Linked DNA regions of Homo sapiens: regions 1, 2, 3 and 4 are each linked to region 5. The links come from fine-mapping of genetic effects on gene expression. A gene starts in region 5. Each other region holds a variant in brackets. All regions are shown on one strand. Distances are from middle to middle. Region 1 overlaps PREX1 (phosphatidylinositol-3,4,5-trisphosphate dependent Rac exchange factor 1). Region 2 overlaps PREX1 (phosphatidylinositol-3,4,5-trisphosphate dependent Rac exchange factor 1). Region 3 has its middle 210 kb from the start of PREX1. Region 4 overlaps PREX1 (phosphatidylinositol-3,4,5-trisphosphate dependent Rac exchange factor 1). Region 5 holds the start of PREX1 (phosphatidylinositol-3,4,5-trisphosphate dependent Rac exchange factor 1).

The links.
Region 1: its variant is fine-mapped to the expression of PREX1 in lung (TOPMed, PIP 0.99).
Region 2: its variant is fine-mapped to the expression of PREX1 in whole blood (TOPMed, PIP above 0.99).
Region 3: its variant is fine-mapped to the expression of PREX1 in whole blood (INTERVAL, PIP above 0.99).
Region 4: its variant is fine-mapped to the expression of PREX1 in whole blood (TOPMed, PIP above 0.99).

What each region holds. Positions count from the first base shown.
Region 1 is chr20:48,731,833-48,738,107 of GRCh38, forward strand. PREX1 (phosphatidylinositol-3,4,5-trisphosphate dependent Rac exchange factor 1) reads right to left here. Exons shown (of 40, transcript NM_020820.4): 4 at 2,714-2,818. Among named protein-coding and RNA genes, the nearest start is that of PREX1, 93 kb to the right of the region's middle. The variant G/C (reference allele first, on the strand shown) is at 3,545.
Region 2 is chr20:48,759,145-48,765,419 of GRCh38, forward strand. The region is part of intron 1 of PREX1 (phosphatidylinositol-3,4,5-trisphosphate dependent Rac exchange factor 1); the gene reads right to left. Among named protein-coding and RNA genes, the nearest start is that of PREX1, 66 kb to the right of the region's middle. RefSeq lists silencers at 1,677-1,726, 5,742-5,920 and enhancers at 2,257-2,306, 3,753-4,528. The variant T/C (reference allele first, on the strand shown) is at 2,459.
Region 3 is chr20:48,617,655-48,623,929 of GRCh38, forward strand. No RefSeq gene overlaps it. Among named protein-coding and RNA genes, the nearest start is that of PREX1, 210 kb to the right of the region's middle. RefSeq lists enhancers at 1,263-1,763, 1,799-2,507, 3,330-3,389 and a silencer at 2,900-3,029. The variant G/A (reference allele first, on the strand shown) is at 3,825.
Region 4 is chr20:48,627,516-48,633,790 of GRCh38, forward strand. It overlaps PREX1 (phosphatidylinositol-3,4,5-trisphosphate dependent Rac exchange factor 1), which reads right to left. Exons shown (of 40, transcript NM_020820.4): 34 at 4,981-5,124; 35 at 4,762-4,876; 36 at 3,213-3,279; 37 at 1,934-2,106; 38 at 346-448; 39 at 33-100. Among named protein-coding and RNA genes, the nearest start is that of PREX1, 200 kb to the right of the region's middle. The variant A/G (reference allele first, on the strand shown) is at 3,343.
Region 5 is chr20:48,824,857-48,831,131 of GRCh38, forward strand. It overlaps PREX1 (phosphatidylinositol-3,4,5-trisphosphate dependent Rac exchange factor 1), which reads right to left and starts at 3,143. Exons shown (of 40, transcript NM_020820.4): 1 at 2,786-3,143. The coding sequence starts at 3,004. RefSeq lists silencers at 2,637-2,706, 3,117-3,796.

The sequences.
Region 1 (6,275 bases), 93 kb before region 5:
GGAAGACTGCTTGAGATAGGAAGGAAAGAAAGAAAGAAGTCAGTCCTTCCCTTCCCTTCCCACACCCTGCACACACCTTCCTGGCATCTTCCTCCTTCCCAGGACCTAGCTGAACCTGAGGGAATACTGTCAGAGGGTGGGACCCTCAGCCAGGGAGCCCAGAGCCTGGGCAGCAGGGACTGTCACAGGGTGGTGCTGCCTGCAAGCCAACAGGTCAATGCAGACATGGCCATTTCTGTCCATGTGGGGTCTTGCAGTAACGTGACTTCATCTTTGCATTCTGCCCAGACTATTTTATGAATATAAGTGCAAACATGGAAATGTGAAGATGTAGGTACCGGCTATGAAAAGCAACAGTCCTGAAAGCTTAATTCACTTGAGACAAAGATGGAAATCAGTAAATCAGTCTGCCAATTTGCCCTTCCTCAGATGTTCACTGGAGCCGGGCCAAGCAACATGAACTCACTTGTGAAGGAAACACACATTTGGAATCGAAATTCTGGAACTACTTTGTTGGAGACTGAGTGAAGGAGAAGTGCAATTAGGAATATTATTTTATAGTTTAGCACTCTGGGAACGTGGTTCATACTCCGTATGCTATGTTAGTTAATTGTTCTACTTTTATATACTGAATTCGGTATGTGCTGTTGGGAAAACAAACAGTATGGGGGTGGAGAGACGTCTGTGACCGAATGAGAAGGGATTCAGAGGTGAAAGACTGGGACTGAAACCCAGGATAAGCTCAACCACTTTTCTAGGATGGACCCCTAGAAAGTCACTTAATATTGTGAAGTCATCAAAATCACCTGTGACAAAGGCTATGCAGTGTCCCCTAATGTATTCTTCTTCCACAGTGATCACATTTCTAGCTGGGCACATGGCTGCTCAGAATAAAGCCTGTATTTCCCAGCCTTCCTTGGATCTAGGGGTGACCATGTGGCTGAGTGCTGGCCGATGGGACGTGAGGGGAGGAGATGTGTGCAGCTTCCTGTTACGCCCTGAAAAGGAGAAGGGTATGCTCTCCTTCCCGCCCTCCCTCCACCCCACCACCTGGAAGTAGGATGTAGTCAAAGGTCATCTGAGACCAGGTCAATGAGCATCATAACCTAGGGCCTTAGCCCCTGACACTGGAGCCACTATACCAGCCCCAGACTGTCTGCACCCACACTGTTAACAAGAGGGAGAAATAAGAGCCCACCTTGTTCAAACCACTGTCCTTTGAGATGTCTGCAAAGCAGACAAATGTTTATCTTGACTCATACACAACAGATAGTGGTTTGAAAGGCTCAAAGGAGGTCACAAATGACAATCCGTTTTATACATAAGTGAGGCTCTCTACAAGTGTAGGGAAGACCATCATGGATGTCTACAGTTTTTCCTGACCAAATGCAAATGCAAATATACCCAGAAATGCAAACACAAATATCCCCAGAAATGCAAACCAACTGCTTTAGGGATCCACTCTACCCTTAGGCTCTATTGTATGGGTAGACCTGACCCCACCTTCCATCTCCAGAAGTGACCAATCAGAACACCACCACCAATTACTCTGTCTACAGCAATTGGTTCAGGGATAAGGTTTTGAGCCAACGAGCATCAGACCTAGGATTTTTGCTGTTACTATGGGGAAAGGGAAGTTCTCTCTATCCTGAAGCTGCTCAGCTATCAGAGGTATAAGTCTGGAGCTGCTGGAGGCCACCCTGTTACCACTTCGGGAGAGCCTGCCTGGGAATAAAGCCACAGCAGAGAAAAGGAGAGTCAAGAGACATACATTACTGATGACATCATTTGAACACCCAGACTCTGCCATCTCTGTAGCCCTCTCAGGTCTTAAACTCCCCAGAAAAGTAAATCCCTCTGTTGTTGTTGTTGCTGTTGTTGTTGTTGTTGTTTTGCTTCTGCCAGTTTTTGGGTTTTTTTGTTTTTTGTTTTTTTTGAGGCCGAGTCTCATTCTGTCTCCCAGGTTGGAGTACAGTGGTACCATCTCAGCTCACTGCAATCTCTGCCTCTCAGGTTCAAGCAATTCTCCTGCTTCAGCCTCCCAAACAGCTGGGACTAGAGGCACATGCCGCCACGCCCAGTTAATTTTTTTGTATTTTTAGTAGAGACAGGGTTTCACCATGTTGGCCAGGCTAGTCTTGAACTCCTGGTCTCAAGTGATCCACCCGCCTCGGCCTCCCAAGTGCTGGGATTACAGGCGTGAGTCCCCGCACCTGGCCGCTTAAGCCAGTTTTAATTGGATTTTCTTTCATTTATAATTAAATAATCCTAAAAATACTAGTAATCCTAATAACCATCATAATGACAGTAGTATTAATAATTACTACTCTTGCTGCCATTTTTAATAGAACCCTTACTTTAGACCAGGAATGGGCAAAGTCAACCCTAATCTGGCCCTCTGCCTGTTTTTGTAAATAAAGTTTTATTGCCACACAGCCACACCCACTCCTCTACACATTCTCTAGGGCTGCTTTCATGCTACAATGGCATGAGCTGAGTCGTGGTGACAGAAACTGTATGGTACGCAGAGCCAAAAATATTCCCCAGCTGGCCCTTTATGGAAAAGGCTTGGCGATCCCTGCTTTAGGCAGGAGATTACCCCAGCCAAGGAAAGGATTTGGCACCATGGGGCAGCATGAAGTCCTCTTGTGCCCAGATTCCACAAGGATGAGGCCGAGTGCAAGGGAGCACCAGGGCTGACGGGTCAACTTACCAAAAGGAAGGCGCGCACGGTAGGGATCTTGTTCAGCTCCACCAGCAGCCTCAGGGCTTTCTCATGGTTGCTGCAATACTCCTCGTACACGCAGAACTTGTCCTTCTGCAAGACAAGGACAGAGCCTGTGGGAGGCAGGTCATGGTAGCAGGCAGGTGCCCTGACACATGCTGACCACTGGGCTGGTAGGGTAGGGGTAAGGACTACCCTGACCCAGGAGAAGCTACAGCAGGAGGTATCTCAGGTAAAGCGGCTCCACTCACTACCAGCTTCCCAGCCTCCACTCTTGCCCCAGGTCTGCACTCAGGGGCCTGAATAACTTTTTGGGAAGCAGTGTGGCCTGGGGGTCAAGAGCATAGACTCAAGAAGAGCAGCCTGGGCTTGCACCACGGCTCTGTATTTCCTGTGAACCTGGGCAGGTTACCTGACTTCCCTGTGCCTCGGTCTCCTTATCTGTAAGGTAGAGTTAATAAAAGTCCCTAAGTCAGAGTTGTTATAGCTGGGGGCTAGCTCTGTTGACCTCCAGATGCCCCTGAGCCCAAAGATGTACTCCTTCCAGACTAAAGGTCACCTGTGGGTCACTAGGTCCAGAACCATCAGTCAGGGTTTCCCGTACTGGAAGAGACAGGAGCCTTCTTAGCAGGAAGCTCTCAACTGAGCATTCTTGGTTCCAGATGGTTCACAGAACCCGCCAAACCCTAAACAAGGATGGCGTGGGTGAGGTCACTGGAGGAGGAAGGGTTGCAAGGCCTCAATCCTGAGCTAGGGATGGGGGTGTGCAAGAGACCCGAACAAGCTAAGGAAGGAAGAGGTGGGTCCACAAAGCAAGCA[G/C]CTCATCTTGTTTCTAAACAAGCCCCCAGATGGCCTTCCGATGGGAGGCTGCAGGAAATAGGAAACCAAAGAGAAGGGAGGATGGGTTTAGAATTAACAGGCATCCCCAGCCCACCCCAGCTCACTCTGGGGGCTCTGTGTGCATCATCTGAGCAGACACCCTGAGCCACAAAGTGCCCAGGTCAGTGCTGATGGCTAACACAGAGTACATACCCAGCACATAGTACAGGCTGCCCAGCATGTAGTACAGGCTGCCCAGCATGTAGTACAGGCTGCACGCTGCTCTCCTGGAATGGGGGTGAACTCACTCATTCCCCACGACAGCCTTACATGGTAACTACTGTAACAGACTCACATACCCATGACAAAACCAAGGAAAAGTTGCTTCCCCAGGGTCTCGCCGCTAGTGCAGTGGCAGAACCAGGACTCAAACCCCCTTAACCCCAGTGACAGTGTCAGCTCAAGGTCATGGCATAGGGTAGGGATGGGAGTGGGAGGCAAATACCCAGGGTACAAATTTCAAGCCACAAATCTAGACTAAGCTGCATCCCAAGGGCACTACACCAGAATACTGAAGGGCACAGAGTGACTCCAGAAACCCAGTTCCACATTCCCTAAGTAGAGGGTGACCTTGGGCAAGTGCTTCTCCTCCCTAGGCCTTGGTTTCCTCACCTGCAAAATGGACATCATAACTGACCTTCAACACTTAGGATGCTGGAGGATGAAATAACTTAATATATGTGAAATGAGTAGAACGGTGTCTGGCACACAATACTTCACAATACTTCAATACCACACAATACTTCAAAGTACTCTACAAGTATTAACAACAAACATAAACACAATCGACAAACATGGATCAATGGGGGAAAATATCAGACAAACCATGTTACAATTACCCACAGTGCACCCCCATACACACACACATACCACAAGACACACAATCTTGATGCATATTCCAAGAAACCACACAATGATCTCAAGCATTACAGCATGCAAACTACATGCTCCAAACACCACCACCAATGTCAGCATGCACATGGACACATGCACTGAGTCACAAACCACCACTCACTCATCAAGTATCTGCAGTCCACTGAGATGCCAACACATGGCAAGGAAGGAGAAGAGGGGACCCCAGCACCCCCAACACTGCCCAGGCAGACCTTTTTCTATTCCCACTTGTCTCAAATGGGCCTAAGGGACCATCAAGGCCAAAAGAGCTGGGTGAGTAGATGTCTGAGCTGCAGGGGATCACTCAGCCGTAGGTAAAACCTTGTGAGTGGGGGCTGCTGGACACACCTGGAACCAGGATTTCAGCTGCAGACTGTGGTGATGCAGGCTGCAGGGAAGAGGAAGAGGAAGAAAGAGTACAACTATTTTGTTGTAGGTGACAGGAACTGGCCTGTCTGGAAACCTGCTCCTGCAGAGAAGACTTGCAGTGACATAAAAAGCCACCATGACCACTCTCACCAACCACTATCAGCATCAACCCTGTAAGTGCCAAGGAGAAGTTCTGCAGCCAGACCATCTAGGTTCATAGCCCAAGTCTCCCGGTCACCAGCTCTTGGTCAAGACAAGTAACATTTCTTGGCCTCTGCATTCTCATCCATAAAGTACAGACAACAATATCATTACCATAATGGTGTTGTGAGGATTGGCAGGTGAATTTATATTAAGGGACTTCCAATGGTGCATAGTAAGTGTTCACTAAATATTAACTAGTATTATTATTGCTTAATAATGTTGTTGCTATTATCACCAGCATGATTATTTCAGAAACTTCATTACCTTTTTTATTGAACAGGGTAGGGCAGTAGGTGGGAAGGTTTTGACAGCAAAAAAAAAAAAAAAAAAAAAAAAAAAAAGACAGGCAGAGTCAGGAGGAAGGCAGCAGATAGACTCGTGGGTTTAGGGAAAGCATCGGGAGGGTCCCAGGCAGATTTTGGGAATTATGATGGTCCCTGACCCCAGGATGTTTTACGTCTCATTCATGCACTGTCCTTCTCCCCTGAATCTCCTGGGACTGTCAGCTCCATCGGGACGGCGTTTTCATCTGTTGAGGTCACTGCTGTGATGTCAATGGGGTCAGCGGCCACTGGCAGAGAGCAGGTATTGTGACTATTTGATGAATGAAAGGAAGAAAAGAGAAGGAGGAACGGAGAGGCTAAAGGGCCCTCAGACCAGCTCTGTGCTTCTTCCCAGGCTGGTCCCACCCCACCCCAGGGACCATAAGTGAGCACATGACCCAGACAAAACCAATCAGAGTTCCCCGTCCTAATAACAGTGGCCATGTGACCCAAGCTGGGCCGCAAGAGCCCGCAAGGACTCGAGCTGGAATCACTGGGAAGAGAAACTCTCTTTGAGCTGCTGTTGAACCCCTGCCACCATGTGAGGCATGCACCCCATAAGCCCCTCCCATTCTCCAAGAGTGAAATCAGCACTGCACAGATAAAAGCAGAGCCTGAGATCAGAGAAAGACCTGGTCCTGAAATCATCATACGGAGTCCTGGATCTAGCTATGCCTGAAGCCAACCTACACTCCTGAACAATTTCACTGACATGCATCAGTAAAGTCCTGTATTTGTTTAAGCCTATCTGAACTGGTGTTTCTGTCACGTACAGCAAAGACAGTTTTGATACATGCACACTCTTAAAGGCAGAAAATGAAAGACATGGACCCAAATCTTAGTGAGGTGACAGGGTCTCTCTGTCCATCTCCACAGAGATG
Region 2 (6,275 bases), 66 kb before region 5:
CTACTGCTCTGTGACCTAGGCAACTGACTCCATCTCTCTGGGCCTCATCTATAACATGGATGGGGACCATAAAACTACTGACTTCATGGGCTATTGTGAGGCTGATATGAAATACTGCAGGCAGGCCAGGCGCGGTAGCTCACGCCTATAATACCAGCACTTTGGGAGGCTGAGATGGGTGGATCACCTGAGGTCAGGAGTTCGCGACCAGCCTGACCAACATAGTGAAACCCTGTCTCTACAAAAAATACAAAAATTAGCCAGCCATGGTGGCTCACATCTGTAATCCCAGCTACTTGCGAGGCTAAGACAGGAGAATCATTTGAACCTGGGAAGCAGAGGTTACAATGAACTGAAATCGCACCACTGCACTCCAGCCTGGGTAACAGAGCAAGATTCCATCTCAAAAAAAAAAAAAAAAAAAGAAAAGAAAGAAAAAAAGAAATACTACAGGCAAAGCATTTAAATGGGCTCAAATCCCAGCTCTGCTGCTTACAAGCTCTAAGACCTGAAGTAAATTATTTATTCTCTCTGCCTCCATTTCCTCCTCTATAACGGGGGATAAAATGAGTACACAGGATTACAATGAGAATTACAGAAGCTAACACACATAACAAGCACTTGAATGGTCCCTGGTGCATAGCAGGTGCTCAAAAAACATTAGCTATTATTGGCCAGGCTCACACCTGTGAGCTCACACCTGTAATCCTAACACTGTGGGAGGCCGAGGCAGGCTGATTGCTTGAACCCAGGAGTTCGAGCAATCAATCAATACGGCAAAACCTCATCTCTACCAAAAATACAAACAAACAAACAAAATAGCCAGGTGTGGTGGCGCACACCTGTAGTCCCAGCTACTCGAGAGGCTGAGGTGAGAGCATCACTTCAGCCTAGGAGGCAGAGGTTGCAGTGAGCCAAGATCGCACCACTGCACTTCAGCCTGGATGACAAAGCAAGACCCTGCCTCAAAAAAAAAAAAGCATTGGCTATTATGATCTCCCCATCTTGAGTTTCTAGAGTGTCTGCAGGGAGTCCAAGCCCTGGTGCAGGTAGACAGAACCCACTGTGCTTCCTAAGGAAACCTGGATTTGGATCAACCACATCTGTAGGGCTTCTACATGCACCAAGCACACTCACATTTATCCCACACTATTTTTACTTATTTTTATTAGTTTTTTCCATCCTGCAAATAGCTCTATTATTATAGACTGCCTGCTTCCGAGTCTCCTGAGGTGAGATGAGAAGGGGAAGGCTTTATAAACTGCAGAGCCCCCCACATCCTCATCACCACCAGCGCACCCCTCTGCCCTGCCCCATCCTCCTTGCTGACTGCCAACCACGTGACTTCAGCAAGTCACCACACTTCTGAGTCAATTTCCTGGACCAAACAAAAAGGGGGGGAGGAGTAGTTGTTGAGGTTTAAGTGAAATGATGCAGGTGAACACTTTGTAACTACAAACACTTCCTGGAAAAAGTGGCAGAAAGGCTGAGCCAGGAGAGGGAGGCTGGACTAGGAAAGGGGCAGGAAGTTGCTTGTGATGATATTCTAGGGGGACAAGTCCTCTCCGAGTACCAACCATCCCAGCAAGTGTTAACCAGGGCCTGCCGTGCACCAGGCACCGAGCTGGGTGCTGGAGACACAGATATAAGCCATGACCCTGCCACGGAAGGACTTATGCATTCTTACATTCGCCTGTGTAGTCAGCAAATACTTACTGCACACCTATTATGTGCCAGGCACTGCGCTAAGAGCCAATGACACATCAGTGAATGAACAAATCAGACTAACTCCCCACCTTCACAAAGTAGTGGCAGAGACAGACTATACACTGATTTTAAAATAAAATGGCAGGTAGGAATGATTGCTACAAAGAAAACTAAAGCAGGGTAAGAAAACAGAGAAGGATAAGGTGGGAATGCCATTTCAAGGAGCTGTTCAGAGAAAGCCGTTCTGAGAAGATGGCATTTGAGCAGACACAGGGAGCAAACAGCATTGCGTGTATCGGAGGACACAGCATCATGGGCAGGGTCAACAGCCGGGGCAAAGGCCCCGAGGCACATTCAGTCTTTCCAGGACAATCCTATCGAAAACGTCTATCCCTGCTCTGTTTTCCTCACAGCACCTGTCACCATGGACATTATGTGTGTTTATATCAGTCTATTATCCATCTAGCCCACTTGAGTCTCACCTCCAGGAAGGCAAGGATGTTTGTCTGTCTAGGTCACTGTGGTGTCCCAGAGCCTAGGATTGGACCCAGCACACAGCAGACCCTCGAAAAGGATGTGTTTAATTAATTAGTCAATCAATCATCTAGAGTAGACTACTCCCACCCCCACCCAGATTCTAGGCCCTGGTAAAAGGTGCCCAGTTCTCACCCCACCCCGCCCCGTTCCCCACCACATCGGGAGAGGAAGTTGATGCAAAAAACAAGTTGCAACAACCTGTCATGAAGAGGTC[T/C]GATGCAACAGTGGGGGAAGGCAGTGGGGGACACTGAGAGGAACCCAATGCTTTTCTTCACGCAGCCCCCATCAAGGGGCTGGGGCCTGGCCTACAAACTTTCCTGAGTTCACCAACAACCCATCCTTCCTTCAACAGATATTTATGCAGAGCCTCCTCTACATGATGGGGCTACCTTATGGGTCTCAAACTGGTAACTCAGAGGCATCATTCCTTTGGCCTGCAGAGGGGTTTGAGAAACTTGGGCCTAAGTTTGAATATCAGGTTTCCCATTAAAATCCAAATTCCAAGCTTCTTTTGAAAAAACTGACACATGGGTCTCAAATGCCCACAAGGCTGCAGGTGCTGTAGAGCAGAGTGATAGCCATCACCTTCACCCAGGACAAGTGCTCCTCAATTTCCCACCACCCAACCCACTGCTGCGCCCTGTGAACACCTGAGTGTGAGACTTCTGTCCTAGACACAGGCAAGGCAAACCTGAACCTGCTACTTCGCCTTTACCCTCACCCAGGGCAGACATCACTAATGGAATGCAGATCTTTTTCCTGCTAAGTCTTCTCCAAGCCGTTCAGAATTTATCTCCCTTCACTGTTGTCAGAAATGGTCTAAAATCCTTCCCATTCACAACCCAGCTTCTCCCTACTCCTTTGGGCTCCTCAGTTGTTGATTTTTTTCCTGAAAAATGGGCTCATCAGAGTGGGATTCTAGCAGAGATTCTCAACTTTGGTACCTTGACAGTTCAGTGGATAGTTCTTTGCTGTGAGGGATGTCCTGAGTATTATAAGACACTCAGCAGCTTCCCTGCCCTCTACCCTCTAGATACAAATAACAACCCTCCTCTCCTCAGTTGTGACAATCAAAAATGTGTCCAGACATTGCCCATGTCCCCTGGAGGCAAAATCATCCTTGGTTAAGAACCATTGCATTATAGCAAAGCTAAGAAAATGGCCTCTAGACAGAGCCAAGTATTTTGGGTTCAAATCCTGGTTCGGTCATTTGCTGGCTGTGTGACCCTAAACAGCCTCTCTGTGTCTCAGCTTCCCTCTCTATGAAATGGGGATATAAAAATGGTACCTGACTGCTAATGGTATGAAGTTTCTTTTTTTTTTTTTTTTTTTGAGACAAAGTCTCGCTCTGTCACCCAGGCTGGAGTGCAGTGGCACCATCTCAGCTCACTGCAACCTCCGCCTTCTGGGTTCAAGCGATTCTTCTGCCTCAACCTCCCAAGTAGCTGGGATTACAGGTGCATGCCTCCACACCTGGCTAATGTTTGTATTTTTAGTAGAGACAGGGTTTCACTATGTTGGCCATGCTGGTCTCAAACTACGGACCTCAGGTGATGCACCTGCCTTGGCCTCCCAAAGTTCTGGGATTACAGGCGTAAGCCATCATGCCCAGCCAATATGAAGTTTCTTTCTGAAGTGATGAAATGGTCCTAAAATTAGATGGTGGTACAACTCTATGAATATACCGAAAACCATTCACCTGTACACTTCAAATGGGTAAACTGTATGGTGGTACGTGAATTATATCTCACACTATTACACCAAAAGAAGAAAAAAGAAATAGATACCTGCATCACGGGGGCATGGGGAGAATTTGATGGGTTAGGATAAAATGCACTAGGAAGCACTGTACGAACTGTAGCCCTTATCGTCAGCACCAGCCCTCGCCCATCTGGGGCCTGCATGGGCGTGTGGCTGGAAGGAAAAGCCTCAAGTGACGGAGACAGTGGTGGCTGGGAACAGGCCCTGCTTTGGGTGGCATTTCCCGCCGGAATGTCCTGGACAAAGAGAACCAAGTCACTCGGGGCCCCAGGATGCAGGGCGGGGTGGCTGGACATCCTGGGGTCCTTGTGCCTGTCTGCAGCAGGACAATGAGTGGAATGCGGTCTCCTCTCTGTGGGGCTGACACTTGACATCTGAAGACAATGACTTTCAAGAGGTTTTGTTTTTTCCTCAGTCCAACTATTTTTTTTCCATCTTCCCAAACAATTGTTCCTGGGGCTGGAGGGCGAGCAGTCCCCCCTTAGCTGGTGAAGGATTGTATTTGTAGAGTCAGGAAACAATGCACAAAAGTGAGAGAATGTAAAAATAGTGGCATTCAGGGCCCAGGCCTCAGTGAGGGAGGTGCAGCCATGGAGGTTTCCTCCCATTGATTTTTCCCAGAGCCTGCTCGGCCCCAGGGAGGGAATTCTGGCAGCAGAAGGGCCAGTCTTAGGAGTACAGACACTGGCTGCTTGGCTGCAGCTTGGGGTCTTCAGTTTAGGGAGTGTCAACTATGTACCCAATGCTTCCCACGATTGCCTCATCCTAGACAATCTCATCTCCATTTTACGAAAAAGGAGACCGAGGTTCTCAGTGGCTGACGCGGCAGCCTCAGAGCATGCAGCTAAGCAGACAAAGCTGGCCTCTGACCTCGGGGCCATCAGAGTCCAGGCTCTGACTTTCTGCCACATCCACTCTAACCCTCTCTTGCGATCTCAGCTTCCCTGACCAGCCACTCACTTCCCACTAGTGATGGGGCCACATCATTAAAGTTGTGACCCCCAAGCTCCACAAGGGAAGAAACTTCTGTCCCTGGAGCCCAATACAGTGCCAGGCCTTCTGATCCAACGTGAAAGGAGGGAGAACTTGCAGGACAGAAAGGACCCAGAGCTTGCAGACATCAGAGGACTCTCAGAGAGGCCCCAACAGCCCTTGACCATTGTGGTGGGCTGAACAATAATCCCTCAAAGACGTCCACATACTAATCCACGGAACCTGTGAATACACCACCTTCCATGGCAAAAGGGACTCTGCAGATGTGATTAAGGTAAGGATCTTGGAAAGGGGGGGATTATCAATAGCATTGAGGTGGGCCCAACATAATCACAAGGATCCTTAAAAGGAAAAGAGGGGCTAGGCACGATGGCTGAAGCCTATAATCCCAGCACTTTGGGAGGCCGAGGTGGGTGGATCACTTGAGGTCAGGATTTTGAGACCAGCCTGGCCAACATACCAAAACCCAATCTCTAGTAAAAATTAAAAAATTAGCCAGATGTGGTGGTGCACACCTGTGGTCCCAGCTCTTGGAAGGCTGAGGCGTGAGAATTGCTTGAACACGGGAAGCAGTGGTTGCAGTGAGCCAAGATAGCGCCACTACACTCCAACCTGGGAGACAGAGCAAGACTCTTTCTCAAAAAAAAAAAAAAAAGAAAGAAAGAAAGAAAAAGAGGGAGGTAGGAGAGTGAGTGCCAGGGGTCAGAGGAAGACCAGAAGACGCTATGCTGCTGGCTGGGAGATGGACGAGGCCACAAGCCAAGGAATGCAGGGGCCTCTGGAAGCTGGAAAAGGCAAGGAAACGGATTCTCCCCAGACCCCCCAGGAGCACAGCCCTGCTGGCACCTTGATTTCAGCCCCGTAAGACCCAGTTCAGACTCCTGACCTCCAGAAGTGTAAGATAATAAATCTGTGCTGTTTAAAGGCACAAGAAACTAATACGACTGCTAGCTCGAAACATGTACACGAAAGAAAAGCAAACCTGTTGTATCTCCATGAATCACGGCCAAACACAATCCTAATACTCTGTTATTATGATTACTACAAAACAGATATTATCATACAGTCTAGCTATACATTTCATACATTGTTTGGCATATGTTTAGTAAGCTGCAAAATGCTTTCTTTCCCCACCCACAAAAGTATCTACAAACAAATATTCATTAAGGACAGATGGTCTAATAACAGTAATTACTATAATAATTACAGCAACATCAAGTATCTTTCACTATTCAGATCTATTCAGTTCCTGAGTTTAGAAAGCAAGAAGCCATTTA
Region 3 (6,275 bases), 210 kb before region 5:
GGCTAGGGCAGGTGTGCAGGGAGCAGTGGCCCAGCAGCTGTAGGCTCTGCGCCCTCTGCCACATCCAGCCCTCAGAGCACCCATTCAGGGTCAGAACCCAGCATAGACTTTAATCCCGCAGTTCTGGCAGCTGGAGGGGAGGGGATGCCCGTGGGCAGAGGTTCTGTGGAATTGGCAGAACCCTTCCCCACCCCACACTCAGCCACAGGCTTCATCCTCTCATCTCCCAGCTTTGTCTGGAATGGTCTCCTCTTTCGAGTAAACCCTACTGATTCTGCCTAATTAGCTCTTCATATGAAATCCCCAGTTACTCTGGGAGCAGCCTCCATGGCGGATCTCCCTGGAGCACGGAGGTGGAGACGCAGGCGAACACACCTCTCTGCAAACTGAATGGATGCAATTGGTCCCCAGGGCCTGAGTCTAACATGGGCCCTGGGCCTCACTTTCCCAGAAGGCCTGGATTCCTAAATGTGGGAGTCACCTTCAAATGAGGCTGCGTCTAGAGTCTCAGAGAAACGAGGACTGTGAGGACCCAGTAGCCCCCTTGGGGCAGTCACCCACAGCCTGGCGCTGATCAAAGGCTTTGCCTGCCCCTCCAACCCCGACACCGGGAACATGCGGTTGGGAGCCCATGCTGCAGATGGGGAAACCGAGACACAGACGAGTCAAGTGACTTGCCCAGGAATCCAAACCCAGGAATCCGGACCCAGGGAGTCCGGCCACAAAGCTCAGGCACTGACCCACGAGCCCTAATCCCCATCTTTACAGCCCCCTCCTTCCCGTCCTCACGCCCAGATGCACCTGGGATGAACGTACTTTTACAAAGTCAATGTAGTTCTTATTTCCTGAACAGCACCACGATAAAGAGTTCGTTTGTTCCTTCAACATTTCAGCCAGCCCGTGGTTTCTATAGCCCTTTCTTGGCATTCCTTCACTTTTAATACACTGGAAGCCCCAAGAGGGAAGCCCCCTGGGTCTTTCCTTGGTGACCTGCTTCTGCCAGCAGCGAGTGGGGCTGCGGGTGGGGACCCAGGACCTGGGACAGGACAAATCCCGGCTCAGAGGCTCCTTGACTGCGTGCCCCTCGGGGAGCGCCTTCCCCCTTCAGCTCCTTCAGCTCCACAGTGGGAGGACAGCGACAACCATGGTGCCCCCCTAGGGCTCTCGTGAGGATTCAGTGAGGTGATGTGCACAGCCTGCGACACACAGTAGGGGTTCAATCAGCACCAAGCATCAGTGTCCCTGCAGTCCCTATGGGGCACGGGGATCTGCCTCACCTGTTAATCAGGAGGAGGAAGGCGAGTCTTTCCTTTTCTTTTTGGAGTCAGTCTCTCACTCCATCACCCAGGCTGGAGCGGAGCAGTGGTTTGATCATGGCTCACTGCAGCCTCGACCTCCCTAGGCTCGGGTGATCCTCCCACCTCAGCCTGGGACCACAGGCTTGCACCACCACCCCAAGCTAATTTTTTTTCTTTATTTTTAATAGAGACAGGGTCTCACTATGTTACCCAGGCTGGTCTCAAACTCCTGCGCTCAAGCAATCCTCCAGCCTCAGCCTCCCAAAGTGCTGGGATGACAGGCGTGAGTCAGGGCACCTGGCTCTAGACTTTCGTCGACGTCCTTTCTGGCTCAGACATTCTGAGCCTCCACCATCGGGTAGGGTCAGACCTTCTGAGCCTCTGCCATCCAGACAGACCCAGATGGATCAGAGGAGGGTGCGAGGGTGAGGGTGAGGCAGAGTGTTCCCAGTCCCTCTTTATGGCCAAGACTCTGCAAACAGGACATGGATCTGGCTTGGATAGGACACAGATGTGACAGCCCTCATGTCTCCCCAGCCTCAGTGCCCCAGGACCCCCTGCCCTCTTCCTGACAGCAGGGGATGTGAGGGAAGGAGGGCAGCCCTGCATCCCACACCCAGGCCCCCTCCCCTCCCCTGATACCCAGCAGCCACGGGTCCATCGTCTTCCAGTGTCAGCCACGCACCATGAAAACAGATACCACCCACCGGGGCCATTCCTGTGCTGTTTTTCAAAGAGCTGTTTGGGCCAAAAGCCAGCAATGCAAGTCTGTGTGCCCTGCAGGGCTGGCCCTCCTCCAGCTCTTCATCTCTGAACCTCCTGTCCCTGGAGCAGCTCATCTCAGCCCTGCCAGTGTCTGGAAAGTGCCCATCATCACCTACAGCTCTAGGAGGGCTCTGGCGAAGCACAAATCAGGACCTGAGAGCATCTCCCGTTACCCATCAGCCCCGTGGCGGTGACATGTGTCCAGCAGGCAGCAGAGCCACTGGGAGGGGCACAGGGTGGGTTGGCTCTGATTGGAGCGGACATGGCAAGAAGGATCTGGAGGTGGAAGCCAGGGCAGCAGGGCCAGCTGCAGGGTGGGGGTGCTCGGGCAGCCCAGCATGGGGAACTGGAGCCTGGAAAGTGCTGGAAGGGAAACATTGCAGGAAGCAGGAGGACAGGGAAGCACCCACCCCACATGCTGGGCAGAGGCTGGCTAGGGACCCGCCCTGGGAGTGGATGGACTTGAATCCTGGGCCCCTCTGCTGAGACCCTCAGGACTTCGGGATGGGAAAACAGAACAGCACAGGGCCGCTGCAGTGACCCAGGGAGAGGAGCTGAGCCAAGCCACCCTCACGCACCCAAGGACCTGCCCCTGGGCCACACCCCAGACAGAGCCCCGGGCTCAGGGTCTGGAGCCACACGGCCTGGGCTCAAATCCAGCCACTGTCCTTGTGAGCAAACTTTGGCTGCAATAATGGGAGGTGCAGCTGGTGAAGGCGCTGGCAGCGGAGGCATTTCCTTAGCATCCCTCTCCTAACCACCCCTGCCCCACTCCAGCCCTCCAGGGAACGCTACCAGTGCCCGGAGGGAGGCAGCTTCAGGCTTGGCTTTCGGCCTCCCCTGCCTGCAAACCCCGAGCTCCAGGCTTGCAGTGGGAGCCTCCCAGGAGCTCTGGGCAGGAGGCCCGCAAGGCTAGGCGGGGCGCCCTGGCCCACAGCGCCATCTAGTGGCCGTCACTTCCACAAAGGTGCACCAGTGACTGTGGGTTTCTGGTCACAAGCTTCGTAAGCACCCCGCTTTACAGTGCATAAGGGCCTTTCATATCCTTCTCCTCCAATCAGAAGAGAGGAAGGGAAAAAAGAGAAAAGAGAGAAGGGAAAGATCCCCGAAAGGAAAGAATTGAAAAATCGAGTCAAGCTCACAGACATATGTTATGGGACAAAGACAAATATAGAAAAGCTTAGAGAGAGAGAAAGAAAATGAGGGGGACGAAAGTAAGAAAGAGACAAATTTTAAAAAGTTTTTAAAAAGAGAGAAAAAAAGAGAAAATATTCACGGCAAGCCCAGCCCAGGAGAGGGATAGCGCCAGTGCCCATTGTCCAGACGATTCCAGGCCCCGCCTCCAGGCTGGCTCTGTCCCAAATACCTGCACCCAGGAGCCAGCCTTCGGTCTGAGTGCTGGAGCCCGGGGAACAGCAGCCTCTGGGCACTACGCGGTCCCCAGCACCACCTGCTGGACAGACAGGGCACTACACTTATCCCGGGAAGTTCCACTTTGGGGCCCTGGAGGAGACTCCTGGTACCCCCGCAAGGCAGCCAGGTGGGCGTAAAGTCTCCATTTCTCAAAGAAGGAAGCTGAGGGTCCCAGAAAGACAGAGAATCTCAGATATGGCCACTCAGCAAGTATCAGGTGTTGACAGATTCAGGAGCAGGCGAGGGTGTCTGACTTCAAAGGTCCTAGTCCAGCCCCCCATGAATGAACCCACGTGGCAGACACAGAGGTTAGAGGGGCCCGCTTGGCCACAGATGGGTGTGGCTTGC[G/A]CCCCCCGCTCTGATCACTGTGCTAACCCTGCTTTCTTCTATTAATATTTAGCCGTGATTCACCACTGTCTGGCCCTGGGCTACAGTATGGAAGGGGTGTGGTTCCTGCTCTTACTGCTGGGGGGAAGGTGGACAGGAAGTACACCAACAGTTATTTAGATAAAATCATAAAGCGGTCAACACACCCCATCGTACCTTCCACTTCCTGGGTGGCCTCTGTTGCAGTCCACGCCAAGGGGCCATCTCTGGGTCAGCACCTTTTGACAGATGAAAAAACTGAGGCTCAGAGGAATTCAACCACCTGGGCCCTGCCCTCATCCTGGAGGAGCAGAGAAGGAGAGGCTCCGAGAGACGTCAATGCGGGGCTGCGCCTGCCCCTTGATTCTCCATTGGACGGCACAGTGACTCCGGGTCACCAGGTCCTCCCCGAGCTGACATCGCCATGGCAAGTCCAGAGCTAAGGATCTGGCCGTCAGCGTGAGCAGGCCGGATGAGTGCTCGGACCACGTGGCTCCGGGGAGCTGGAGAGCTGGCACCCTCCTCAAGAAGACAGCCGCTCCTCAGCTCCAGCTGACATGTAGCCAGGTGGGAATGTGGACCAGTGTGACCAGAGCTTCTGATTTTTTCTTTAATCTTTTTTTTAAGAGGCAGGACCACACTACGTTGCCCAGGCTGGAGTGCAGTTGGCTATTCACAGGTGTGATCAAAGCGCACGACAGCCTTGAACTCCTGGTCTCAAGCAATCCTCCCACCTTTGCCTCCAAGTAGCTGGGACCACAGGTGCGCACCACCACACCCAGCTCAGAGCTTCTGATTTTCGAGACAAACTAAAAATCAGAATTCAGAGATGAAATTTGCTGGTTCATAAATATAATTCATTTTTTTAAAACACCATATCAGGAAGGAAGTAAAAAAAAAAACCCACATTTAGTTCCAAGTTTCAGCCTGGAGCCATCAGTTTGAGACCTCTTGTCTCCTGCAAAAATGTCCGCTTGCTCTGAGAGGCCCTTCGTGCTTAGTTTTATACTTGGAGAAACACATCTCGGAGAGGGAGGTGGGCCCGGCTCTCCCTCCCAACTCTGCAAGCACAGCTCTGAGCCTGTAAAGTATGCAACTTGCTCAAGGCCACAGAGAGCCGGCTGGAAACCCAAGCTGCTCCTGCCTACGGCCCCAGGAGAATGTATGTTCCTTCTGCGGGCCCCCAGGGTGGAGGAGAGGCTGAAATCGATGCTTTCTAGAAACGTGTCTGCCTGAAGGAAGACGTCCAATCCTCCCTGTTGACCTCAAATATAGATTGAGGTAACAGGTCTTCCCTCGAAGTGATTTTCCCTGGATCCAAACACTGGCCTCAGATAATTCTAAATAATCAATCCATGACTGTGCCTGAAACCCCACCAGGATTCCCTCTTGCCTGTTAGAGTATTGAGTCCTTTGAAACCTGTAACTGAGAGACGCGAGGATCTCTCTCTGGGAGGGATCCAATCTGGGCCTTCAGAGAATGTAATCTGCAACAGGTTAGTTTGGAAGGAAAAGAGACTGAAAGAGAAGGGGCTCGAGTGTGAAATGGCAGGGCTGGGTGCAGCACCATGGTACAGGGGAGTCCCAAGGGTGGCCATGACCCAGAGGAAACTGTCATCGATTTCAGCATTTTCCAAAGGATTGGAAATCGGGAAAAGATGGAATAAAGAAGAGGCCATACGCAACATACCGAAACCCGGTCTCTATAAAAATTTTTAAAAATTAGCCAGGCATGGTGGTGTGTGCCTGTAGTCCAGGCTACTTGGTAGGCAGCATACTGAAACCTGGTCTCCACAAAAAATTTAACAAATTAGCCAGGCGTGGTGGCACGTGCCTGTAGTTGCAGTTACTTGGGATGCTGAGGTGGGAGGATAAATTGAGCCCAGGAGGTCGAAGCTTAAGTGAGTCATGATCGCGCCACTGCACTCTACCCTGGGTGATAAGAGCAAAAGACCCTGTCTCAAAAAAAAAAAAAAAGGACGAGGGGGCACAGGGCTGGCACAGCAGAACAGGTCTGCAGCCCAGGGAATGAGGTTTCTCTGACTATGCAAACAAACCCAGGCAGCTTCATAAAGATCACCTGGGCCCAGGCAGGTGGAGAACCTGCTGACAGCCTAGGATGCAGCCACCAGGCCCAGGTGTGCACGCAGACTCTCTATTCTCATTGGTGCATTTCACGTCTGCCCAATAGGCCTGTTTGTGGCCAGCGTAAGTTCTGGCTGACTGGGGGTCCGGCACGACCATGTTGTGGGTATTTTGAACTCCACTCCCGCCTGGATCCAACAGGCCTTGCAGGTTGGAGCGAGGAGGATTCTATGGCACCCCTTGGATCCACACTGTCCCCTCAGCACAAGTAAGCCACCCAGGAGGAGGTGTGGAATTCCTGGGAAAACAGTCACTTTTTCCTACCTTCACAGTGAAATGGGAGCTCAG
Region 4 (6,275 bases), 200 kb before region 5:
GACAGGAAGGGGCGGACGAGGCAGCCACTCACCGCGGAGCACCCTGGGGCATCTGGTCCTTGACTCGCAGGTTTTTGGCCAGAATCTCCACCCTTGGGCCCTGGAAGAAGGAACCATCAGGCAGGGGCCTCTGCAGGTTCAGGGCACGTGAGGAAGCACACTGGGGGGTGGGGGTGGGGCCCAGAAGCCCAAGGACCCAGAAGCTAAGATCCTTGCTCCCCTCCAGATTCAGAGAAGGCTCAGGTCTGGGGCTGGTGGCTACCAGCCCCTCATCCCACCCTGGCTGCAAGCATGCCACGCCCTCAGCCCAGGGTGCTGGAGGACCCTGTGGCCAAGCGGCCTCACCTGCTTCCGCATGATGTCCGTGGCCTGCATGATGCACTTGGGCAGCAACCCGTGGCTCCGTGCCAAGATGGCCGCCTGCTCCAGGGACACGCTCAGGGTGCTCCTGCAGCAGGGGAGGGAGGACAGCGGGTTGGCGGTGGGGGGACAGGGGTCGGGGGAGGACAGCGGGAGTCAGAGGACAGTGGGTGAGAGCTGGGGCAACTTCCTGTCCCTCCGAGGCCTCCCAGACCCAATCCTGACCATCACGGCAACGCCTCCTCCTGCCGTCCCTCCCCGCTTGCTCCTCTTCCTCCAGGCAGCCACCACCCTCACTGGCAGGCACTCTGGTGCTTCCCCGTCTGCAGAAGCCCTGTTGAGTTCCCTGTGACATTCCCAGTGCCTCGCTCAGAGGAGGACTCGGTAAATATCTGCTGAGTGAGTGGGGGACTCCCTGGGAGCCTCACGACTTGTCGGCTCCGTGGGGTTTGAGATGGACACATCGATTCACACCTCTCTGGGTTTCTCAACAGTTCTAGAACGTGGATTCTGCAGCAAGACCTCTAGGATTCCAATCCTGTCCCTCCATGTAACTCCTCTGTGACCCTGGGTAGCTGAGTTAACCTCAGCCTCCCTATACTATTAACTATGAAACAGGGAGCATGGTGGTGCACAGAGGACCTGGCCCAGCTGGAGGGGCTGTCCTGGGAACCACAGGAAGCTGAGCAGCATCCCGGCCTCTACCCACTAAAGGCCAGGAGCTCCTCCCTCCCCTAAGTTGTGACAACCAAAAATGTGTCCAGACATTGCCAAATGTTCCCCGGGGATAAAACTGCCCCTAGGTGAGATCCCCTAAAATAGGCCCCACTACTGCACTGGTAGAGAAAGACGGAAAGGAGTTAATCTGCATGGAACGTCAATGACCTAGGAGGCAGAGAGCACTGGCCCCGTGAAACATTTATTCAGCAAATGTTTCTTGAGCACCTGTCTCAGGCCAGGCACTGCTCTAGCCTCTGGGGAACAGCAGAGAACAAAAGGGGCCCCTGCCCTCCCAGATCCAGCCCTGCCCTGAGGGAGCCAAGGAGGAAATAAATACCCCAATGAAGGCTGTCTGGGGAGTGGGGGTGAGGGCTGCAGAGGAAGAGAGGGTTGGGAGGGCACTGAGTGGGGAGAGTGGGCACAGTTTGTAACGGAAGGTCAGGAAGCACTCTGGAGAAGGTGACCTCTTCCTCCCTGGGATGAGCACTGGGGACAAAGGATGGAGGTAGGAGGCAGGGGAGCCTCCAGTGAGGTCAGCAGGCCCCATAAACCAGCCATTGCTATTGTTAATGTTGAAGGAGGCTTCCGGCGGAACTACAGGGCACAGCTCTCACACACACTCACTACGGCGTTAGAGAAGCAGGTGGCTCCACAGCCCTGCTAGGACCACCTGCTGCTGCCATTCCGTTTCACAGACAGACAAACTGAGGTGCAGACAGAGCCAAGGCTCTACAGGCAATGGCAGAACCAGGATTGGAACCCAGCCTTCCTGCCTCCTTGCCACAGGACCCCAAACTGACCAGAAGCTAGGCCAGCCCCTCCCCACACCCCGACTCAGCGGGCAGCAGCTCACCTCTGCATGCCTGTGCCACACATGACCATCTGGCAGGCCCCCAGGCGGTAGCAGAGCTCCGAGGAGATGGGGATGAGGCCGGCGCCCACACTCCCAGCAGCACCAGGCTTTGGGTGGACAAAGGACTTCATGAGGCGGCAGAGCTCATCCAGGGCATTGATGGGGCGGATCAGCTGTAGGGGGTACCACACATAACCGGGGAGTTGGAGGAGGTCCTCACAGCCCCTCAGCCCCCATCTGGCCCTCCTCCCCCACCATATCCTTCTAATCCAGCTGTTCCTGCAGCTGCCTCCCAGCTCACCCCTCTGGGGATAACAATGCAATTCAATCTTCTATAACCTCTGCTCAAGAACCCTCTGTGGCTCCCCACTGCCCTACAAGCTGGCAGTCAGTGTTGACCATATATTTCAGGTCTAACCTTCCAACCTAATTCTCTTCACCTGCCCAGGTGTGTCCCCAGTGAAGCCTGAAGAAAGTGCCCTCTCCCAGCCTGTCAAGACCAACACAAGCGCCCCCTCTCCAGAAAAAGCCTTCCCTTCTGCCCCCAGCATTCCCTGACCCCCACGTGGAGGTGCAAGGGGTGGTTCACTAACGAGCTGTGCTGCGGGGACATTCTGCCAGCCAGAGTGGAAAGTCCCAAACGGCTGTGCCCACCCTCCTCCCGGAGCCCCCAGCTCACAGCCCCAAGACAGCACCCCAAAATCATCAGCACATTCAAGGCCTGCCTGACCCTAGAAAACCAGGAGGCCAAAAGACATGTGTTGAGGGTCAGAGGCAAGGAGCCCAAGGAGCCGAACTATCGAGGCCCCTCAGAGGGAGCTGCTCCCAGCTCGGAGCAACGGGGACATGTGGCAACATGGTCCCCAACAGCCAGATCTTCCCATTCCTCCAGAAAAGCTGGAAGCCTCTGTTTTTATGGGAAATCTTTTGATTTCTAAAGGTTGACAGCAAATTTGAAACACATAAACAAAAAGAATACCATACAGGTTACATCTGTCATGAGGTCCAGGCTCCAGCCTCAGAGAAATGCTGTGGTTAATAAGGCGGATTGGAGTGGCAGAGATGGGCGGCTGCCAGCGAAAATAAATCATCCCAGGAAGTTGGGAATGGGGAGGAAGCTATCATGGGAGACTTCCTGGAGGAGGAGAGACTGCAGGGTCTCAAGGGCTTTGGGGCTAGAATCTGCTGGGGCACAACCCTGGGCCTGTCTGCTGAGTCCTGACTCCTGAGCGCCCCACCCTGCCCAAGCTCCCTGCAGCAGGAGGGCACGTGGACATACCTGGTCTATCTTTACCGCCGTGGTGCTGGCATCCGTGGGCAGGTTAGACCGCTCCAGGTAAAATGCCCTGCGAGAGAAAGATGGGAATGAGGCGGGGGCCACCACACCCACCATCCTCCTGCCCCTACCC[A/G]GGTCTCAACTCCTGCAGCCACCGTGACTCCGCCCTCTGCCGACTCTCAGAATGAAATCCCTGAGAGCGCCTGCAGGCTGTGCTCACCCGCAGGCACCTGTTCCTACAACAGCCGGGGGGGAAAGAGGGGCCTCCTGAGCACTCCTCCAATGCCACCCCTCCCTGCCTGCCCGTCCACAGCAGCCCCCAGCCCTCTGCTCCCCAGGCCCTGGTCCTGCTTTTTCTCTCTTCTGAGCACTTCTCACCACTTGGCATCTCATGGCTCTGGGCTTACTGGTTTACTGTTCGTCTCCCCCTCCAGAACAGGGGTCAGCGAACTTCTTCTGTGAAGAGCCCAACGGTAAACATTTTATGCTTTGTGCACTGGAAAGTCTCGATCGCGGCCACTCAGCTCTGCCATTGCAGCACAAAAGCAGCCACAGAGGATGTGAAAATGAGTGAATGCAGGTGTGCTAATAAAACTTTATTTACAAAACAGGGAGACAAGGAGGGCCAGATTTTGACAACCCCTGCTCTAGAATATATGCTCCATGAAGAACAGGACTTTGTTTTGCTCACTGCACATTCCCAAACAAGCACCCGGAACAGTGCCCGGCCCGCAGAAGGCCTCAACATGTGTGAATGAAGGGATGAATGAATCATCACACAGGCAGGACTCAGAGTATTCCACAGATGGCGCAGAACAGACTGATGACAGCCCTGATCAATCCAAACAGATGCCAGTTTTCAGTAACTGGGCTGGATGCTTTCTCTGAGCAAACGAATGAAGCCTCATTCTCTCATTTCCAAATGATGAAGCCCAGACCCGTACTCATCTCCCTGGGGTCTTAATTCTCGGCCTGCCTCTGTCACAGAGGGAGGTGGTGAGACACACGCAGGAAGGGCTGTGGGGGAGGGTGGTAGGAGTGGGAGCTGCAGAACTTAGAAGCTGCCTCCCAGAACCTGTGGTTCCTCCTGGTGATACCTGGCTCCTGCTCTCACCCCTCCTCCCCTGGGGTTCTCTTCTGAGCAGCCAAGACCCTGGGAGCCGCACCCCTCACTCACAGGCCCAAGAGTCCCAAGGTCCCCTGTCCTAGCTCCCACCCTCTGTAGAATGAAGCCGGCTCCTCTCAGTAGGAAAGACCCACTTTGAAACCAAACAGACCCCAGTTCAAAGCTCAGCCACTGCCTGGCTGTGTGACCTTGGGCAAGTGTGTACACTTTCTGGGCCTCAGTCGCCTCCTCTGTAAAGTGGGATCCATGGCCTGCTGCCATTGAGAATCTCACGCAGGCAAGAGTGCTGTCACACAGAAGGTGCTCAAGAAAGGGTGTGCGGCCCACTGCCCATGCTGGGGGTCCGCCTGGCACCTTCCATGCTAATGCCCACTCCACGTGGAGGTTTCCTGACTCCTGCCCCCAACGGGGACCCCAGGCGGATACCTGAGTTTGCGGTAATACTGCTGAACTTTCTCCAGGGACTGCGCGTTGATGTCCTGCTGCAAATCCTCCGCGGCCTGGCTGCCTGGAGAAGGCAGCCCCTCCACGTTCTCCAGCACTGGGAGGGGAGATGTCGGGGGCGGGCAGGCGGTTGGGAGCCGGTGTGCTTGGTGGCCTTGGCCCGGCCCCCGTGGTCCTCCCTGCCCCAGGCCTGAAGCTCACCTTTCGTGAACAGCGCTGTGTGCAGCCTCAGGCTGGCCCCACCCTCCAGGCGGGAGGGCAGCTTGGAGAAGTGGTAGCTGTCGAGGTAGAAGATGACCTTCAGCGCCTGCCGGCTGCCCTCAATGTGGTAGAAGACGTTGGTGTCTGCGGAAGGATATGGGGCAGGATGACTCACCACCGAGGCCAAGGCCAGGGGAAGCCCTGGCACACCTCTCCAGAACAGCTGGCACCTCCCTGCCCCCAGGTCCAGGGGGGCACCCTGGGACCTCCCTGTTCTCCCGACTCTACAGGGGTAGCCTCAGACCTCCCTGCCCTCCTGCCCTCTAGGGACAGCCTCCAGCAGCCCTTCCCTCTCACTCTCCGAAGAACTGCAGCTGACACCTCCCTTTCGCCTGCTTCATCAGCTCCTAGTTCCGCTGCTTAATTCTTGAACCTGATGCGGACTCTGCCTACTTAGGGGGTCCACAGCATTTGGGGTCAGAGCTTCCCCAGCGCTCCTTGTACCCTCACCCGGTAGCCCATGGCCCCTGCCTGGGAAAAGCTGCCCTCAAACAGGGTATACATCTGATTCATAGCCAGAAGGAAGCGCTTAGGGCAGGGGGTGCAAAATATGGCACCCAGACCCCATCCTGCACCCATGGCAGACATCACTCATCGATCAAAGCTCTGCCCGAGCCAATCTCAGCCTGGAGACAGGCAGCTGCTGCTGCCTATCAATTCCAATTGCTACTCAAAGAGAACCTGCCCTTCATCTAGACTCTAGTCCATGCATTTTCAGCAGGAGAGACACTGTCCCCAAGGAGGTGAAAACTGGCTCGTGGGAAGGAGAATGAAAACACTTTCCTCTTTTAATGTATAATAAGCACAGATGCACAGATAAACAGACACAGGGTATACCCGTAGTAGTATAATTTCATGGGGGTGCAGCAATTAGGAAAAATTGACTAAAAAGGTTTTTTATGAAATTAAATAAAATCTAATGAAATGAAAAAACTGAGAAACACTAATCCAGTGCCTGGTTCCTAATTAAACCCACATGCCTCAGAAGCCCCTGGAGGGCTTTCAGCATACAGGCCTCTGGACTCCACCTCCAGAGTTTCTGAGGCCGTAGTTCTGGCTGGGCCGGAGAATATGCCTTTCTATCAAGCCCCCAGGTGCTGCTGGTCCAGGGGCCACGCTCTGAGAACCCCTGCTTTCAGAAGCAAGCCCAGAAGTTCCCAGCCCTGGCTGCACATCCAGACTACCCAGCACCCAGACCCCACCCCACAAACCGATCAGAATCGCTAGGGCCCAGG
Region 5 (6,275 bases):
TTCCACGGTTTCCATGGGCCGATGGGACCTTCACACCAAGGACACACGGAGACCAGGGTGGTCCTTTAAGGCCTGCCTCTAACCACATGGAAATAAAAGCAGGGAGGGATTACCGTGCATTCTTCCAAGCCAGGAGACAGCAGGGAAAATCCCTTAGCAAATATAAAGGCTGAGAAGAGAGAGTGGGAAGACAGAAGAGAATCACAACCTGAGGCTGCCAGCCTTGCAACCATGGAAAGCCTTGGTAATTAGCAGTTCCTGAAGCTCTAAGCCCCAGGTTAGTTTTGAAAACGAAAATGCCTTGGGATGTTTAGGGGCCATTCCTGACGGGCCAAGATGAGAGAGGACTCCTGTGGCTCACAAACAACGTATGGCTGGTCAGGTTACACAATCCGTCTGTTTCTGGCACCAGCTTGGGGACACACAAAAGGCCCAGGCAGAAAGGAAGCCCGGATTCCCCGCTCCTTGTTTCACAGGTGGGGAAACTGAGGTCAGGACACGTAGCATGATTGGTCCAAGACACATGTCCAAGTCAGAACCAATTCATCTCAGAACTGACACATCAGATACAAAAAGAAAAATGTGATGAAGTCAGCAAATGTAAAGTGTTAAGGAGATAATGTGAAAGTAGAGAAATCTTTTTTTTTCCTGTTTCTTGAATAATAAGAATGGTTGGCTCCAATCAATTTCCATTATTCCAGCTTCCTCCTACTCTACACGTGGACGATTTAAAACCACAGTTAACTCAAACACAATCTAGATCTGTTCTAAAATGAAACACACCATCTAGGGCAGGGGCGTGGGAGGGAGAGGTATATTTTCTTTCCCATTAATATCAAAATTGGTTTGTATTTCCTGTTTCTCTTCCAAGCAGAGGAGCATGGAGTGGCTCAGAAGGAGAAGTCAGGAGTTCCCTAGAATTTGACATTGCTCAGAGACACCAGGGTTGTCTACATGTTTAATTCAAAAACTGCCAGCTTCTAACAGAACAAATTCTTCCCCCACCCCCCACCCCCGAAACTGTGAGAGAAGAAGGGATGGGAAAGAAAGCCAATCCTGCCTTATTCTTACAGGCCTTCCTAGAAGGGTCCTTTAGCCAAATGGTTTTCAATGCTTCTGCACAACCCCCTCTCCCACATCCCCCTGCCCCCAGTACATCTCCTTTCACAGGCAGAAGGGCTCTAGTCTAAGGCTGTCTCCTCCCTGAGCTGGAACTCTGATCTCACACAGCCTCAGCTGCACCCCTAAGCCATGAGGAGCCCCAGAGGACCCCAGAGTCTCCCTCTTTCTCCCAAAGACTAGGAGCTACAAAGCCTGGCTCTAGGGTCTTTGAAAGAGCCACCCCCACACCAGCCCTTCCTGAACCAGGATTAAAAGACTTCCTAGAGCAGAGAAGGGGAGTAAATGAGGCCCCAGCAGGAGGCATGGAGATTAAAGACTTTAGAGTCTCCTAACTTCCATCCAAGGCTCTGCCCCGTCCCACCCCCTCCACCCGCTGGCCACTTTTCTCACTTCCTAGGAGAGTAGGGAAGTGGCCCCTTCCTCCCTCTCACAGAAAAAAAGCAAAAGAAAAATGCAGCATAGAATAGGGGTTTAGAACACCAGCTGGGATAGTCCCGGTTCAAAGCCCAGTACCCCCACTTAATCAGCTGTGCGATCCCAGACAAGCTACCCGGCCCCTCTGGAGCTAAACTTTCCCAATCTTAAAAACGGAGGAGGCAGGACCCAGTAGCTCACGCCTGTAATCCCTGCACTTTGGAGGCCGAGGTCGGCGGATCACTTGAGGCCAGGAGTCCAAGACCAGCATGGCCAACATGGTGAAATCCCCTCTCTGATAAAAATACAAAAATTAGTCGGCCGTGGTGGCTGGCGCGTGCCTGTAATCCCAGCTACTCGGGAGGCTGAGGCAAGAGAATTGCTTGAACCCGGGAGGCGGAGGTTGCAGTGAACCGAGATTGCGCCACTGTACTCCAGCCTGGGTGACTGAGGGAGACTCCGTCTCAAAAAAAAATTTTTTTAATTAAAAATGGGGGAAATACTCGTCCCTACTTCATAGACCGCCTGTGAAGGTTAAACCTGCTAATTAATGACACATGTAAGGTGTCTGGCACATAGTAAGTGGTCGGTTGTTATTTTACAAAGTCTGAGGCCGTGGTTTTGCACTTGGAGATGGGGAGTTGGTGGGGGTGGATGCAGTTAGGGAGCCTGGACTGCCGAGTTTTGAGTTCGAAACCCACTCTCCCCGAACTCCAGCAAAAACCTGTGCATGGGGGATTCTACCCTGGGGTTCTGTCAATCCCCGCCCCTCCTCTGAGCTTCAGGTTTTATCCTACTCCATCAACGCGCAGGGACGTTGGGCTCTGGGGCTCCTACGGTATGTCCTAGATGAGTGGTGCACCGGGCGCGTAGTTATTCCTGGGAAAAAGACGCAGGAGCGCCAGCTCCCGGCGCCGCCGGGGTCCCCAAGCCCCTGCATCGCGGATGTAACTAATTTTAAAACTATTTGAAAGGCGGGGACGGGGAAGAAAAGACAAAAGGGCAGCGCGCGCCGCGGGGAAGTGGAGTGCGGGAGAGCCCCGGTCGGAGCAGGACCGTGCGCCGGCCAGGGAGGGAGGCGACGCGACAGCTCTGGAGGAGCTCGGATCCCCCCCGCTTTCCGCGCGCCCTGCGGGGCGCCCCCGAGGCAATTCTCCACCCACGGGGACCACGGCCACAGGTTGTGGGGACCGCAGCGGGGCGAGCGGCTGGAGGGAAAGCTGTCCCCAAGCTCCCGAGCGACACTCACCGACTGCAAGAAGCGCAAGGTGCCCACGTAGTCCCTCTCGGTGCCCAAGATCTCGTTGAGGACGCAGAGGCGGAGGCGCAGCTGGCGCTCGGACTCCCGGGCGGCCGCGCACGGGCCGGGGCCGGAGCTGGGCGCCGCGGCGCCAGGGGCCCGGGGGTCCGGGTGGGCGCAGTCCCCGGCCCCGTCGCCGCCGGGCTCGCTGCCGCTGGGCGCCTCCATTCTAGCGCGGCCGCGCGGCGCCGGCTCCTTCCGTCGCGCCGAGCGGCAACTCAGGCGTCCAGGCGCCCCATCCCGGACGGGGCGCGCCGGCGGGCCGGGCTCAGCGGCGGGCCGGGCTCCCGGCGCGGCGGGCGGGACTGGGGGCCGGGCGGCTGGGCCGGGGGCGGAGGCAGCGCGCGGGGGCCGGGCGAGGGGCGGGAGGGGGCGGCCCTCGGGGCTCCCAGACGGCTGGCCCCCCGCCCCCGCGCCAGGGACCGTCTGCCAAGTGCCACGCCGCGCTCGGCCGCAGAGGCGCTCTGCGCGTGCACGGGGCCCCTGGGGACGCGGCGCGGCGCTCGGCGCCTCCGTCGGAAGCTCGGGGGTCGGGCGGGAGCCTCCGGAAGGGCCCCGCGGAGCCGGGAGTCCGAGGCCGCGCGCACGCCGAACCGAGCGTACCAACTCCGCGCCCGGACGCGTGGCGCCCCCCCAACCCGCAGTCACCGCGGGCTACGCCACTCCCACCCGGCACACGCGACACCCGCCGCGCGCAGGCTCCTGCTTGCAGGTCCGGCCGCTGCTCGGGCCAAGTAAACACCGGGCTGGGAAAGCTCGCTGCGGAGCCGCTCGGGGGCAAGCCAGCCCCGCCACGCGCGCCTCCGCGGCCCCGGGAAGTCAGGGGCGACCGCTGCCTGGGCAGTGACGGCCCCTCTCTGGGCAGTGACGGCCCCTCCCGGGAACGCCGGGCCCTCGCGGTGCCCTCGGTGCTACCACGACCTTGGGAAGGAACATGCGTGGCGCGCGCTCGCTCTCACTTTTCTCTTTCCCGTTTCCTTTCCCATCTCTCTCTTTCCTTCCTTCCTTTTCTTTCTGAACTTCTTTGCCCCCTGACCCTGCCCTTTCCACCTTTCCCAGAAGAAATTATTACCTGCTCTTGAGTTATTGATCAAGTGGCAGGTACCCTGCCTGCTCCCCCTTCCATCCACCCACCCCATGGGATAAGGCCTTGGGAAACCCAGCTTCTTGTCAGGTTGCTCTGGGCAATGTTGATCATCACCCGCCTTATCGGAAGGTATGGAGAGGGGAGGAAGTTCTGGGGCCTAGAGTCAGCTGCTCAGGTTCAAATCCTAGCTCCCCACTTGCTGGCCGGGTGGCCTTGGGCTGGTTTCCTTGCTTCAAGATCCTCAGTGTTTTCATCAGTATAACGGGAACGATCATGGTACCTAGCTCCAAGGTCCTCCCCGGGGTTCCATGGGAAGTACTTAGCACCTAGAAAGTTCTCTGTAAATGTTTGTTCTTACTATTATTGCATGTGTGAAGCCCAACACCTAGAAAGTTCTCTGTAAATGTTTGTTCTTACTATTATTGCATGTGTGAACGGCCCTCTAAGCCTGGCCCCACTCTCAAATGGCCCATACAATCCCTAATCACCCGTGTTTCCGGACCAGAGATTGTATCGTCTCTGCAGGGGATAAAGTGATCCACATAGTATCCGCCTCTAGACTGTAGTCATTTTATGGACAGAAACATTGCTTATTTATTCCTGTTCCAAAAGCCTAGGATTTTCCTCCCATTGGCCTCTCAATACTGTAAGTGCCTAAGGACACAGGGAGAGAATGGGGTGGCTTCTGCCCTCTCTGACTTCTTTCTTTGGGATCATGGGCAAGGTAGCATTTGATCTGGGCCTTGGGCTGAGTGAAGTTCCCCTGGGCAGGGAGTAAAGGACATGAGATAGGTGAGCCTGTCACGCTTGGGTAGTGGAGTCAATTGTGTCCAAAGGTAGCTGGTTTTTTATTTATATTTTTATTCCTAATAAAGGCCTCTGGAGTATCTCTGCTTTGTGACTTTAAACTGTTCACGGTACCTTTCTGAGCCTCCGTTTCCTCATCTTTAAATTAATTCTGTCTACCACGAGGGGAGAACATGGCTGGAACATAATGGACCATGGAATGAAGCGGGCTTGCATTTGTATCCCAGTCCAAATCCAACTGGCAGGGTAACCTTGGCCAAGACACGTTATTTCTCTGGGCCTCAGTCGTCTAATCTGTAAAAGGGGAGTCTTTGTGAGAGCGAATTCTATGCAATACAGACTTTCTCAACCTTGGGACTATTGACATTTGGAGTCACATAACTCTTTGTTGGGGGAGGGGCGTGTCCTGTGCATTTCAGGACATTTAGCCGCGTCCCCTACCCACTAGATGCCAGTAGCACTCCCTCCCCAATCTGAGAATCAAAAATGTCTCCAGGCTGGGCACAGTGGCTCCGGCCTCTAATCCCAGAATTTTAGGAGGTCCAAGTGGGAGGATTGTTTGATCCCAGAAGTTCAAGACCAGCCTGGGCAACATAGCAAGACCCTGTCTCTACAAAAAAATTTTAAAAATTAGCTGGGCATGGTGGCACACACCTGTAGTACCAGCTGCTGGGCTGAGGTGGGGAGCTTGCTTGAGCCCAGGAGGTCAGGGCTGCAAGTAAGCTGTGATCACACCACTGCACTCCAACCTGGACAACAGAGTAAGCCTTGCCTCAAAAATAAACAGAAAAAGTGTCTCCAGACATTGCCAGATATCCCTGGGGACAGAATTGCCCCCTGTTGAGAACCACTGATGTAAAGTACCTGACACACATAGCTGGCACAGAGTAGGTGCTCAACAAATGTTAGTTCCCTTCTCAGCCCATGACCAAGGAAGGTTAGCCTCAAGTTTACACACAAATCCCACATTTCACCCAAGAATTGGCCCACACTGCCAAAAAACATTTCCACGTTGTGGATGGGTCCCATCTCTGGCCCACCCCAATGTTTTATACATCGTTACTTCCTCAGATTCTGCTGGGATCTTTTTCCCCTTCCATCCCCATCCCCAGTGGTAATGATGACACTAAAAGATAATACAGCGTTTAGTAACATACTTAAGCTCTCTGTGCCTTGCTTTCCTCATCTGTGAACTAAGAATAATATCAGTACCTACATCATAAAGTCGTTGCAAGGTTCCTGAGTGCATACATGGAGGGTGCTTAGAGCACACAGTAGGTGCTCAATAAGTGAAGTCTTTTACAATGCGTGGATTGAGTGCTGAATCTAATAGGATGCATTTGGCTGCAAGGAGAAGAAAACTGGGCTATTGATAGCTTAAAGCATAAGGACATTATTTAGCAAGAGGTCCAGAGGCAGTTGGTTCCTGAGGCTGGTGTAGGACTTCATGATGTCATCAAGGATCATGGCACCTTTGACCCTCCTATCCTCAGCATGGTGGCTTTTCCTCCCAAGCTTTAGGGCCTCAGAGGCACAAAATGGCTG